3 separate regions of the Homo sapiens genome follow, and all the other regions are linked to region 3. Evidence: fine-mapped expression QTL. A gene starts in region 3. Each other region holds a variant in brackets. All regions are shown on one strand. Distances are from middle to middle. Region 1 overlaps WRNIP1 (WRN helicase interacting protein 1). Region 2 overlaps MYLK4 (myosin light chain kinase family member 4). Region 3 holds the start of MYLK4 (myosin light chain kinase family member 4).

The links.
Region 1: its variant is fine-mapped to the expression of MYLK4 in lung (GTEx, PIP above 0.99).
Region 2: its variant is fine-mapped to the expression of MYLK4 in tibial nerve (GTEx, PIP above 0.99). The same link has a PIP of 0.9 or more in T cells, adrenal gland, aorta, atrial appendage, blood mononuclear cells and breast.

What each region holds. Positions count from the first base shown.
Region 1 is chr6:2,781,521-2,785,763 of GRCh38, reverse strand. WRNIP1 (WRN helicase interacting protein 1) reads right to left here. Exons shown (of 7, transcript NM_020135.3): 5 at 2,203-2,358; 6 at 1,361-1,440; 7 at 1-757. The coding sequence ends at 482. Among named protein-coding and RNA genes, the nearest start is that of WRNIP1, 18 kb to the right of the region's middle. The variant A/C (reference allele first, on the strand shown) is at 2,013.
Region 2 is chr6:2,678,286-2,682,528 of GRCh38, reverse strand. MYLK4 (myosin light chain kinase family member 4) reads left to right here. Exons shown (of 13, transcript NM_001012418.5): 8 at 2,238-2,308; 9 at 3,121-3,249; 10 at 4,157-4,243. Among named protein-coding and RNA genes, the nearest start is that of LINC01600, 46 kb to the right of the region's middle. The variant G/A (reference allele first, on the strand shown) is at 2,031.
Region 3 is chr6:2,749,105-2,753,347 of GRCh38, reverse strand. MYLK4 (myosin light chain kinase family member 4) reads left to right here and starts at 2,426. Exons shown (of 13, transcript NM_001012418.5): 1 at 2,426-2,612; 2 at 3,942-4,212. The coding sequence starts at 4,054. RefSeq lists a silencer at 559-853.

The DNA of each region.
Region 1 (4,243 bases), 32 kb before region 3:
CATGACAGAATCGAAGAGTACTTTGAAATAGTTTTATTGGCTCGTAAGACCTTTGCATATAAAAAAAATACCCAAAACACTATGCAGTATTAAATCACAATTACATTTTTTTACCAATTAAAACTACCCAGAATATACATTTTTTAAAGAAAAGAAAATCCTACAGAACTGAATTCTGAAATGACATTATGACTTAAATACTATGACAAAATAGATAATTCCTTATAACATTAATTCATTGCACAAAGCTGCCAGGTATTTTCATAAGCATAACCGCTGCACCGAGTGCAAATGAACACAATTTCAAAGTTACACATTTATTCGAAAGAACTGCGCCTCCACCTATGGAACTCTTAAATTTCTGGCACAAAATGTTGGTCTGTTCTAACTTCCACCAGGCAACCAACTTTGCAATCCACTAACTTTCTTTCTGGCCCTCCCTTAAAAAAGCAACATCCTTCTGCTGTCGTGCCCTGAGGAGTCAGCACCTCCTCTGCTTGAAGAAATCTACCCCCCTCAACTCTTCAGGCAGGTACTCCTGATCCACAGGCTCGCTGTACATGGGGTTGTACTTGTAGCCTTTGCCATAGCCCAAATCCTTCATCAGCCTAGTGGGCGCGTTCCTCAGGTGCAGGGGCACGGGGGGCAGTGGCCCCTGGTGGTTCCTCAGGCAGGCTTTGACGTTGTTGTAGGCGCTGTACACCTCAATGGACTTTGGGGCTCTGGCAAAGTAGACCACACACTGGGCCAGAAGCACCTACCAATGACACAGAGGACACATTTTACTAGCAAGATGCCAAGCTTCTGTTCTGCAGAGCCCCTTCTGATACACAGCTCTAGGTAATTCTGAGAAGATCCCCACATGCTTTTATTATCCCCCTTTTGCGCCTACAGTCTGGATAACCACCTACGACAGACAGAAGAAATTCTCATGAGGTGAAACGAGAGGCAAACCAGGTGAGTGGTTTTCATTTTTTTTTTTAACTGAAGGACTTTTTACTACATTAAATTTTTCTTAAGCCCCCAATATATAAAAGAGATGAATATGAAGCTGCTCTGGGGGCGAACTTGCAGAGGCTTTGCTGTTCAGCTCCTTTAACCTTTCTGCTCCCTGGAACATATGGAGCATGTGCTCTGAACCCCGGAATCCCGAGAACAGTTTGAAACATGACCTCGTTGACACAGAAGGTTTCCCTCTCTAGGAGTCTAAGAGTCTACAATTGGAATTCCAAAGCCAAGCAGCATACTCAGTGGGTCCAATACACCAATGGTGAAGGAGGGACATTTATTCAAATCTACAAAGGGACAGAGCACGAGAGAGAAAAGAAGTGATTTGCAAGAAATGAGCTGATTACTTTACCTCACATTCAGGCATGCCTATAAAATGACAGCCTTGGTAGGCAGCAACCGCTTGTGTTAACGCAGACGGGTCTGCCAGACCTGCCACACACAGAGACAAAGGAGAGTTTCAGTCATGACACACACTGTCCTCCTGGCCTATGTGCAGGCGACCACAGACCACCACTGCTTGTACACTTGGTGACCAAAACAATCCCATGTAGCAAAACAGCCTGACTTAGCTCTAGTCTCTGATCCCATGAACTTATGCAAGAAATATTGAGAGTGGTTACTGTGTGGTGTTAAGAACTGTTTCCTTGTGGATAAAAACTCTGCATCTAGAAAAACATGAGTCTCTGTATAACAAACATAAGAAGTGAAGGCTATGGAGACATTCACCAGGATGGAAACACTAAAAACAAAACATCCCCTAAGACCAAAGAAGAGGAGAGCTTTCCTGATCTTTTTCTTCATATAGTGTCTAGAGTCTTCCATTTCTACCTTGGGAGCTGTCCAAAGAAAACCTTGAACACCTGACTTAAAGCAAATTTAAAAGCAGCTCATCTATTGCAATACTCTGAATAGCCACTCATGTTAGTAAAAACATTCCCGAAGAGGAAACAGAAAATGGTGACTTTATGAACATAAACATTCAAAAGCACATACACCAGGAA[A/C]TAAACGACTGAGCTCAGGCATAAAGTCTTATCTTCTCCTGCCAGTCTCACATAGCCCTGAGACATTCTTCCTGCTACCCCCGCCCACCCCGCCCTGCAAAAAAAAAAAAAAAAAAAGCCACGATGTAACTGTTAGCCATTTCCCCACCCTCATGGACATAGGACTCCGGGACCCTCCCATCACACTCACCTATGTCCTCGCTGGCAAACCTGACAAGCCTCCGTGCCACGTAGAGTGGGTCCTCTCCTCCCTCGAGCATGCGAGCCAGCCAGTAGAGGGAGGCGTTCTGGTCTGAGCCCCGCATGGACTTGTGCAGGGCGGAGATGCAGTTGTAATGCTCCTCACCTGACATCACAAAGAGCACCACTCACACAGAGCTCACAGGAGGGGCGCCCAAGCCATCTTCACCTCCGCCAGCTGACTTCCAGAAAGCCTGAACGAATAAAGGCCCTGAGAAAGCCGAGGAGAGGTTTGGGCAGCTGCCTTAACCGTGCTCTGAGTGGGGTGCACCAGCTGCTGGGGCTTAATCCCAGTCCTATTCAGGGGAAGAGGCTGCTGCAGCAGAAACCTGTGGCTGTCGACATGGAGTGCACGCACACGCACAGAGGCAGGAGGGAGGAAAGGTGGTCCTCCCAGCTGGTGGATTTGCCAGAGACAAGAGTGGAGGGGGACGAGTCTTCTGTTCTGGCTCTATCCCGTGGCCCACCATCTACTGGAGGAAAAGCAACGGTGGGCCTGCTCGGAGCCAGGAGGATGTAGAGCCAAGTGGCAAGGGCAGCTGTTATAGCCCATCTGTTCCTCAGTGTCATTTCCAGCTGCCTTTCTGATATCCGAAGCCTGTGGTCATTTAAACCTCCTTCTGCCAGCCTTGGTGTGGGGACACCTGTGTGGCAGGGTCCCAGAAGGACCGACACGTGGACTAACCAGCTTCCGCCCTGAAGTGGACGGAAGCCCACTCTCTCACCGCCTGGTCTTACTACTCCATTTTTACCCTAGATTCACATGAAATCAGTGAAATGTGCTTTAAAAAAAGGCATATTTAAGGGCAAAAAAATGACAGCTAAACAGTTCTCAGGAACTAAGCAGTGGCACCTGCATACATTTCACTATTCTCTGGCCATCGTCCCTTAGGTAAGTTCAAGGAGGGGGCACCCTCCTCACGAGAAAGCGGAGGATGGTGTTCCCGTGAGTCTCACTCCTCCCAGAGGAGCACCTGGTCTGTGCTCAGCATAAGCCCATGTCCACAATACGACTGGCGCCAGCCACAAACCCTGGCAGCTGAGCTCGCTGGTAAGATGACAGTTGGTCTTCAGGTGGAGAAGAGAGCAAGCGAAGATGCTGGCCTCCCACAGGGGAAAGACCTGCAGGACCCACGGCTCAGCCTGAGTGATTCTGGTTTCTGAGAGCCAGGGCAGATGGATGGGTCAGCCCAGCTACTGGATTTCTGAGAACAAACTGAGTGTCTCCTGTGCAGGGCTCCCCTGGTGAAGTCAGAGTGCTATGGACACTGGCCGAGAGGGTGTCCTGGATGACATCTGCATGGTTCTGGCCCACTCCCTCACCCTGCTGGCCCAGGCACTCAGGCTACGCTCTGCTCCTCTGCAGGGTGGAGGAAGGCGGGGAAGAGGGTAGCAGGTAACAGGCCTGGCTAAACTCACGGGCATGGGGGCTGGAAGAAACTACCCACACCACTTTATGTCAAATTTAAACTCCCCCTACACAGGTTAGTCATCTTTTCCCACTTTGTCAATGCCAGGGGCAATACCACCAGTATAATGGACAAGAGCACAGGCTCTGGGACCAAACAGCCTGGGCTGGACCCCCAAGCTCATGGGCCATGGGCAAGTTCCTGATCCTCACTGTGCCTCAGGTTTCTCATCTGTAAAATGGGAAAAACGAGACCACTTACCTCACAGGGCTGTATTAAATAACACACGCCTGGCACAGAGCAGGCACTGTAAAAAGATTCTTTTGCATCAGTGATAGATACTAGTATTATTCTATGCTACCTTCCATGTTTGCTTTTATTACACACTGCTTTATAACCTGAAATCTGACGACTTCTATAGAACCCCGATGTCAATGCATGGCAGAGAGTTTGCTCTCATTTAGAAATTCCTTCACTCTGATGCAGAAACATCACTGGATCCTACTAGTGGGTAACTATGAACTAGGTGGCATATACAAAAATAATCACAACTCTGGGGGTGGGTCTTTGTCTCACTGGAGT
Region 2 (4,243 bases), 71 kb after region 3:
GCAGCAGAGGACAGTCGGAAGGATGGGGCCAAAGTGCTAAGGAGAAGAGAGGGTGGGGTGGGCACCCCACTGCCAATGGTGGAAAGCACACAGAAGCCAAGCCGCCTTTCTTTCTCCTCCTATTGATTGCCCCTTCCCTCTTTACCTCTCTCATGTCTCATTATGAAGTTCCTAGAATCGGACTGTATGTAGTCTTAGTTACAACCAATAAAAGACCTAGGCCCAACAACCCTGATCAAGTCCCATATTGGGACTAAGTATCATAAAGTACGTCTTGTGTGGCTTGGTCATTTTCTCATTTCCCTGTTTGCACAGCGTGACAGTAACATAAAATATACAATCTATATAACATCCCATCTATTGCATTCACTAGGGATTGCATAGCTAAATAAATTTAGCCTCCTGAAATAGGTTTCCATGGGCCTCTCTTCCTATAACTTGGCTTCCCTCACTGTCTTGATTTATGTGCCTTGCCTTTCCCATTCACTTTTGAGCAGGAGGAGAGCAGGAGGAAGTGGTTTATAAAATGACAAAGTCAGAGGCTAAAAATCATTAGCAAAACCCTCACTATGAACTGAGTTTGATAATGCATGCTTTCATGGAGCATTTTCATTGAATGTAGATATTCTGCAGATATCCCTACAGGGATTTGATTGGCAACTGGAACTAGGAGCAAACCTATTGTAAGTCAAATGACTCCATATGAGGCTTCATAACATTGATTGAGGACCTGCAGTGGGCAGTTTTAGTTATGGCTTGGATGCAGAGATCATCATAAAGGTGACAGCTGGATGGGTCCTTAAGGAGCTGCTTTTCTGAAAGCTCCTTGGAAGGAAAAGGGCCAAAAATATTGAGTGATTGTCAGTATGTGGGGGGAGATTATAGGTGACTTACAAACAGTCTGTTTTATATTTTTCTGTTTTGCAAAATTTATCCAATGAACATTGTTTAATTTTATCGTCATAAAAAGGCTAACTTATTGAAATGCCCTCAAAACGGTTTCTCTATATCCTGCAAACTTTTTGATGCCACAGTACTCCTTCACAATTGGACAGCTTTATACATGATCCATCAGTGATTTAAGCATGAAACCAAATGGTTCACGTAGCACCCCCTTCTCTATAATGACTTTTACTCACAAACATCTGTTTTAGAGATAGTTTAGAAAAGGGCTTCCAAAGATATTCTGCCCAACCAAATGTACTATTGAATATTGATAAGGAGACATTATGTCATTTCATAATGTGTTTCTGAATTTCTGATCTCATTGGAACCTCTTCTCCACCTGGACAGGTTGGGGAGGGGAGCCTGATCCCACTAAAGGCTGAGGAACGGGATCCTGGGCATTTGGCTTCTGGGATGGTGCCCTCCAGCTTGTAAAGAATTGGGACTGAGGGTTCTTAACTCTGAAAACTTTTTTTCTCTTTTATAAATGGCCTTGACTTTAAATCAAATCTCTTACTTTCCCAAGACCTCTGTTTTTCTACCCCAGTAAACATTAGGTGCACTTGTAAGGCATTCTGTGAACACTGAGTGGCTGCACTACACCCCATTTTCTCCCCCTGCACCCCAAGACTGTCAGGTCAGCAGGCTAAGGTCTTACCAGGGCCTAGCTCCAAGGGAACACTTAGTCAGGGGTTTTAGGCATTGAGACCAAACTCAGCAAAACCTTGGAACTGCTGAGACTGAAGAACGACTGGAGAGAAAAGCCCTCCTCTGCCGTGCGACTTTCCCATAGGCGTTGAGCAAAGGGAAGCTCTGGAGGCCGGAACGTTCACGTGACAGTGCATGTTCAGTGTGGCTGTTTGAATGGAGCAGGTCAATTCCCTTGGAACTCATCAATCTTGGGAAAAATATTTCTCCAAGAAGGGGAAATTCATACTGAATAATTTAGAGGGGCAGATGTCAGGCCTGAGCGGGCCTCCACAGCACATTTGGGAAGGACTGAAGCAACCTCCTTTTCTTGCTCCCCTCAAGGCCTCTGCCTGAACTCAGGCATTATGGTGAACTGTGAAGCCGTGCAGAGGACA[G/A]GCTGGATAATGCAGGGTTGGCAGGATACCCGCAACCTCATCCACCACATAATTAAAGGAGAAAGTACCCACACGGACAAGCCCGCCCCGAAGTGAAAGGCCTGATATGTTTTTTCTGAGCATCGTTGTATTTTTAGTTGTGGTTCAAGGACAATTTGAGTGAATGATGGTTGTTTTCATTGCTAATGTGTCTCTTTCTCCTGGCAGCCTGAGAATATCCTGTGTGTGAATCGGGATGCTAAGCAAATAAAAATTATTGATTTTGGATTGGCCAGAAGGTATGTCTATTTGGACATAGGTGTACGAATGGAGCTGGGGGACATGATGGTTGCCCTTCCTTTGCAAACATATATCTGATCTGCTCTTTGGTTTCATGATCTCATTTATAATTAATTTAACAAAAATTATGTTTGGCCTTAACTTGCTAAATTTGAGACTTGAGTGTTTAGAAGTTTCTATAATGCATGCAGTAAAAAGTATAAAAAATTAAAACCTAATACAGTGAAGTTTATTAAATTAGAAGCCATTAATTTAGCATTTGCAAGAGTTTGTCCCCTCTTTCATATTTGATCCATCTGTACAGAGAAGATTTACTTTAAAAATATTAACAACGTAAGCAAGTTTGCAAAGGGTTCTGGCACATAAAAGATTCTTCAGGGAACAAAGAGTTTACGTGGACACATTAACAATTCAGCACATTAACGACACATATAAAATGGATGTTGTAAATTATTGCAGTACTGTGTTTATTCATTTTACAGGCTTATTCACATCATCCCCATGTCAATGACTATATCAGTTTTCCTCTTGTCATCTTCTGTAATTCAGATGTTCTCATTATTCACAGCAGCTTCTCCAACAACTGGTTCAGCTTTTAAGGTTTCCTAGTATGAATTTTGACTTTTAAATTTTCTGGGGCCTCTTTACAAGTTTTTGAGCCTCTTGCTTGATTGTTTGATTTCCTTCAATGTTTGTTTGTCTGAAGTTTGCTGTATGGCTGAAGTCATTTTGTCTCATAGACTACATCATTTCAGTGTTCACGATTTTTGATCGACACGTCCATCCTTCCACTTTGTCTCTTAAATTGCAGATACAAACCCAGAGAGAAGCTGAAGGTGAACTTTGGAACCCCAGAATTTCTCGCCCCTGAAGTTGTGAACTATGATTTTGTTTCATTTCCCACTGACATGTGGAGTGTGGGGGTCATCGCCTATATGCTGTGAGTAGCTCTCCTCTGTCTCTGACCCTTCTCCAACTCCATGCATATTTTCTGAGGTTTTGCCGTTTTAAATAAAAGCCCCAATTGGGGTATTTAAAAAATAAATAACACTGTCCCATCCTCAGTTGCCTTCTAGGTTTTGTTGACTCCTGTGGGTGAAAGGAGTGAATTCTTTCCCTGCACATCATTTGGAAAAGTAAATGTGTGTCCTCTTCATTAATCACTTTAACTCCTAGGACACAACCTAAAAGCCAAAAATTAATTTAAAAAGCTCACATGGCCTGGCGCGGTGGCTCAAGCCTGTAATCCCAGCACTTTGGGAGGCTGAGGTGGGCGGATCACGAGGTCAAGAGATTGAGACCATCCTGGCCAACATGGTGAAACCCCATCTCTACTAAAAATACAAAAATCAGCCGTGCGTGGTGGCATGCACCTGTAATCCCAGCTACTCGGGAGGCTGCAGGAGAATTGCTTCCAGGAGGTGGAGGTTGCAGTGAAACGAGATCACGCCACTGCACTCCAGCCTGGTGACACAGCGAGACTCCGTCTCAAAAAAAAAAAAAAAAAACTGATCTCCTAAATGACTCAGGCTAGCCTCACCCCTCAGAGGTGACATGCCTAGCGTTTGCCATCTGAGCATGTAGTAGCACTTTGCAAGCTGAAAAGTGCTTTAAAAAGGAAGCTGATATTCATATTCATATTCTGTTATTGCTGCAGTTGTTCAGTTAGGAGTTGGGTGGGGGCGGCAAGCATTTTCTTGATTACAATAATATGTTATAAAATTATGCTTCAGGATTAGGTTATTTTCCTTCTCTCACCTTTAAATGGCACAACCAGAAAAGCAATCTGTATGGAAAGGGGTTGAGGCTGTTTAAAAAATACTCACTCTGGACCCCGTGTCCTCCAGACTTAGCGGTTTGTCGCCTTTCCTGGGTGACAATGATGCTGAGACGCTGAACAACATCCTGGCCTGCAGGTGGGACTTAGAGGATGA
Region 3 (4,243 bases):
AACATTCAGAACGCTGTGTAGAAACAAAAACTCTTAGTGTAATCCAGCCGGGTTTCAATGCCAACCCGTAGACAAGAGCTGTCGACGATGTTTCTTCATGTGGCTCCTTTGACAACACAGTCTCTTACTCAGCTAATGGAAATGTCCCTTGAAAAAAATCAAGGGATTCTTTTCCATGGCTCTGTAGGGTGCTGTTTTCCTGATGTTGGTATTTTTTAGAGAAGTATAACTCCAAAATATGGAAATACTGGAAAAGTGTTCCTGGGCCTGCTCATATTCCTCACTAATGAATTTTTCCGGGTATAAGAGCATCTTTAAGCATGCAGAACATTTTATGGGTATGGACTTAGGATCCTGAGGCTAGGCTGATAGACCAGAATGAGTATGCATGTATAACCTGTTTTTTTGTGGTCAAGGGTTGTGCCAGCAGTGTGCTTGTCCTGTATGCCATCGGAAGCTGGGAACAGTGTGATGCAGCAGAACCAGACAATCAGTCACTTTTAGCATGGATTATTTTAATTGACTTGCTTTTTAGGGCAAGTAGACACAATTAAAGATCATTCTATCTAGTCATTAATCAAATATGTATTGAATGTATATTGTGCATGGAAATGTCTATATGTGGATGCCTTCCAAATTCTTATCTCCAGCCTACACCCCTCCCCGGAACTCCAGTTTCTATCTCCACAGCCTATTCAACTTGAACGTTTAATGGACTTGCCAAAGACTTCATGCCTGACCTTTCCCTCCAGAGTTGCCCTTCCCACAGCCGTCTCCATCTCAGTTAATGTTCACTCTGTCTTTCAAGTGCTCAGAAGAAAATATGCAAAGGTGTCTACCATCTTTCTTTCATACCCCATACCCAATCTATCATAAATCCTACTGATTCTAAATGTACTGTGGAATCCTGCATGGGATTCTGGAACAGAAAAGGGGCATTTGGGGAAAAAAAAAACCCAGCAACAATAAAGTATTGAGTTTAGTTAATAATAACGTTCACCATGGTTCATTAATTGTGACAAGTATACCATACCAACGTAAGATGTTAAAAACAGAGGATTCGGGGTGCAGGGCAAGGGGAACTCTGAACTACCTTTGCACCTTTTCTGTAGATGTAAAACTACTCTAAAAGGAAAAGTTTATTACAAAAAAATAAGCTAAGGAGCAGATTCTCCTGGCCTCTGGCTCACTCAAGCCTGTGGTTGGTTTGCTGGAGCCAACGAGATAGGAAGTCTGCTTTTGCGTGGTGGTGGTCCGGGTGGAGGATGTGGTTGGATCAGCAGCAGCCCACACACATCTTGCCTCTGGCAGGGCATTTGTTGCCTTATCAGTACTTCTACACAATTTAATTATACTAACAAAATTGGTAACCTCAAACCAGCTTAGTCTTTGTATAATACTTTTGTCAGATAATTTATCTCCACAAATTTATAGTTCCACTTCATTACTTTTGCTGAAGAACAAAGCTCTCCAATCTGAAAAATAACAAGCGTTTTGTGTTTTAAAAAAGATTTTGCTGTAATTCATTAATACTACATAAAATGGAAAAATATGTATTTTTATTTCACATGGAATGCATCGATCTGAATTAAAAATAAGGTTTTTTTTTTAAAAGAAGCAGAAGAGCAGCAGAGGCTGGTGTTAGAATGGGGCATAGAGGGGCTAACACAGGCTCCAAATAAGAGGTGACAATTGGCCAGGCCCTGAAAAATTGCAGGGTTTTCAAGACTGCAAAGTCCAGCCTCTGGGCAATCAAAGTTTTATGCCACTTCAGTGAATCTAGGGATGCACTACTGTGAGAGTCGGGCAGGTGGGTTGAAATTCCCCTTTCTTGGTCTGTGCAGAAAACTACGGATGAAGTCCTAGTGTTGCTTAAGGAGAATTTATGAAAAATTTATTCCTGTTTCCTGGATGCCTGTGCCTTTGACCTTTCCCTAGAGCTAGAAATGGTTGGAGACTTTGCAAACATCTTTAAGAACTGAGAAAAATAAAACAAACTTGCTAACTGCTTTCAGAAGATCTTCTATATTGCAGTTGGATATGCTCAAAGCGTAAGATGGGCAAACAGAGGTGGCTGTGGGGTTGCCACACCTGGCATTTTCCCTACTGGGGGAAATTTAATGAGCACTTAAATAATCCTGAGTCTGAAAGGGGCAGAAGGTCCAGGCAGATGATTGCCGAGGACAAATCTAGCTTTGTAAATCCGAGAGTATTGACACAATGATACGAGGGAAAGGTGAAGGTGATATTTCATCCAGTGTTCCCGGTTCATCCTCTCCTTACCTGACCTCTGAAATGGAGCCATTGGCCTTGAAAAGCCTGGTGTCTAAAATTAATATTCTTCCCCATCTGACTAAGAAGGCAACAGCTGAGCAACGTGAGATCAAGAGCCATATTAATTTAAACAGGGGCTGAAAGTGGCATTTGAGAGAGAAGATACTTCCTCTCGTAGTGGACACTTGTCTTTTCAGAAGATTTATACGACTGAGAGTCAAAACTTTTACCAGAGACTTTCATAGTCAGTTTGAATTCTGCAAAATTTCTCTTTATCTTCTGGAATGTATGCTCTAGACTTGGAGTGGCTCAAGCTCTTCGATGTGATCCTATCAATGGTAATTATCTTTGTTTATTGTTATAACCTCTCAAATCTCCTCCCCTTTTTTCTAAGTTACCTTCAATAACAAATTGTACCAAACTTCAGGTAGAGCTTAATGTTTAATATTTCTTTGCAAAATTATTGTATCTTAATCCTAAGCTTTTGTTTTAATACATTAATTTTGTGTGGCTTCCTGATCCAACTTGAGTTTCATCTGCAATTAACCATAGTATTTTAGTCGTAGTTTGCCTTAGAAATAGCCATGCATTTGTTTCCTTATTTTAATAATTTTTTCAGGGCAATTTGAAAGAATGCTAAGAATGATCTGTAATATATCTGTAGAGCTCTGGTTGATAGTATTAATATTTGCATTTTTATTTGTTTGAATGTAAGCTCTTTATGTGGATAAGTATAATTTGTTAGAGCAGTGAATTTTAAACACTTTGGAACTCAAGAGTATCATTTTACTATAGGAACTGACAAAACAAAATATTAAGTTTTCTGATGAGAATCACAATACGGTTTTTAAGCGGAGAAAATGCTCGAAGAGGCGCTTTTCGGAAAATCTCCACCAGGGGGCCTCAGTTGTCAGCCATGCGGAACTAGCACAAATTCAAATGTCTCTCCCTCTCCCTGCCTCTCTATGCAATCAAGTGATGTGTACATATAGACATGCGTATATGTCTCTAGTATCAAAGCGAATTATGTATGCTGCATTACTTCATTTGCGAGGAAAGTATTTTAAGGAGAGTGAAAAGACTCTGAACTTCTCGGTACATAGCTGTTAATGCAGATGCAAGGAAAGGTATCTGGGAGTGCTGTCCACGTGAGAAGACTGTAAGGAAATAAATTTCTTTTCACAAATAAACACCACACATTTTAAGGCATAGGTAGAGAAGAGTTCTGGAAAAGGACTCATTCGGGAGCGATCCCTCTGCAGAGGGAGGCCAGGGGAAGCAGAGAGACCCCTTCTGTGATAAGCCCTTCCCACGGGGCTGCAAAACCTGCGGTTCCAATTAAACCCAAAGATACTTTATAATTTACATCCAAGCTGGCCACTTGATCTACGGCTTGTTTTGTGCAATAAGGAGCATATTTCATCACCAGTGAATCTTGACATTGCTTCTTACTGTTTGCTTTTGTAGTTTTAAAGTGAAAAAATTTTTTTTCCTTTTAAAGTTCCAATGTTGGAAACTCAATATGAATGTTAGTATTTCTTTTCCTGATTTTGGATCCTCTCTCCAGTTTAAACAGAAGGGACTTCCAAATTCTCACTGGTCATTTTCTCAAGAAGTCAAATGCATGAATACGTGATGAGAACTTTTTGTGTTTCCTTTCTTTGCAGTCAAGAGAAAGAAGCACTGAAGAGTCATAATTGTGTCCTGATTTATAAATCGGAGACAGAGGGAGACGAAAACCACACTCCAGAAAGTAGCTTAATCGGACTCACTACTAAGATGTTAAAAGTGAAGAGGCTGGAAGAATTCAACACGTGTTATAACAGCAACCAGCTGGAGAAAATGGCCTTTTTTCAGTGCAGGGAAGAGGTGGAGAAAGTGAAGTGTTTTCTGGAAAAAAATTCTGGGGACCAGGATTCAAGATCTGGACATAATGAGGTAATCATGTTCTAATTTAGTCTCCTAAAAA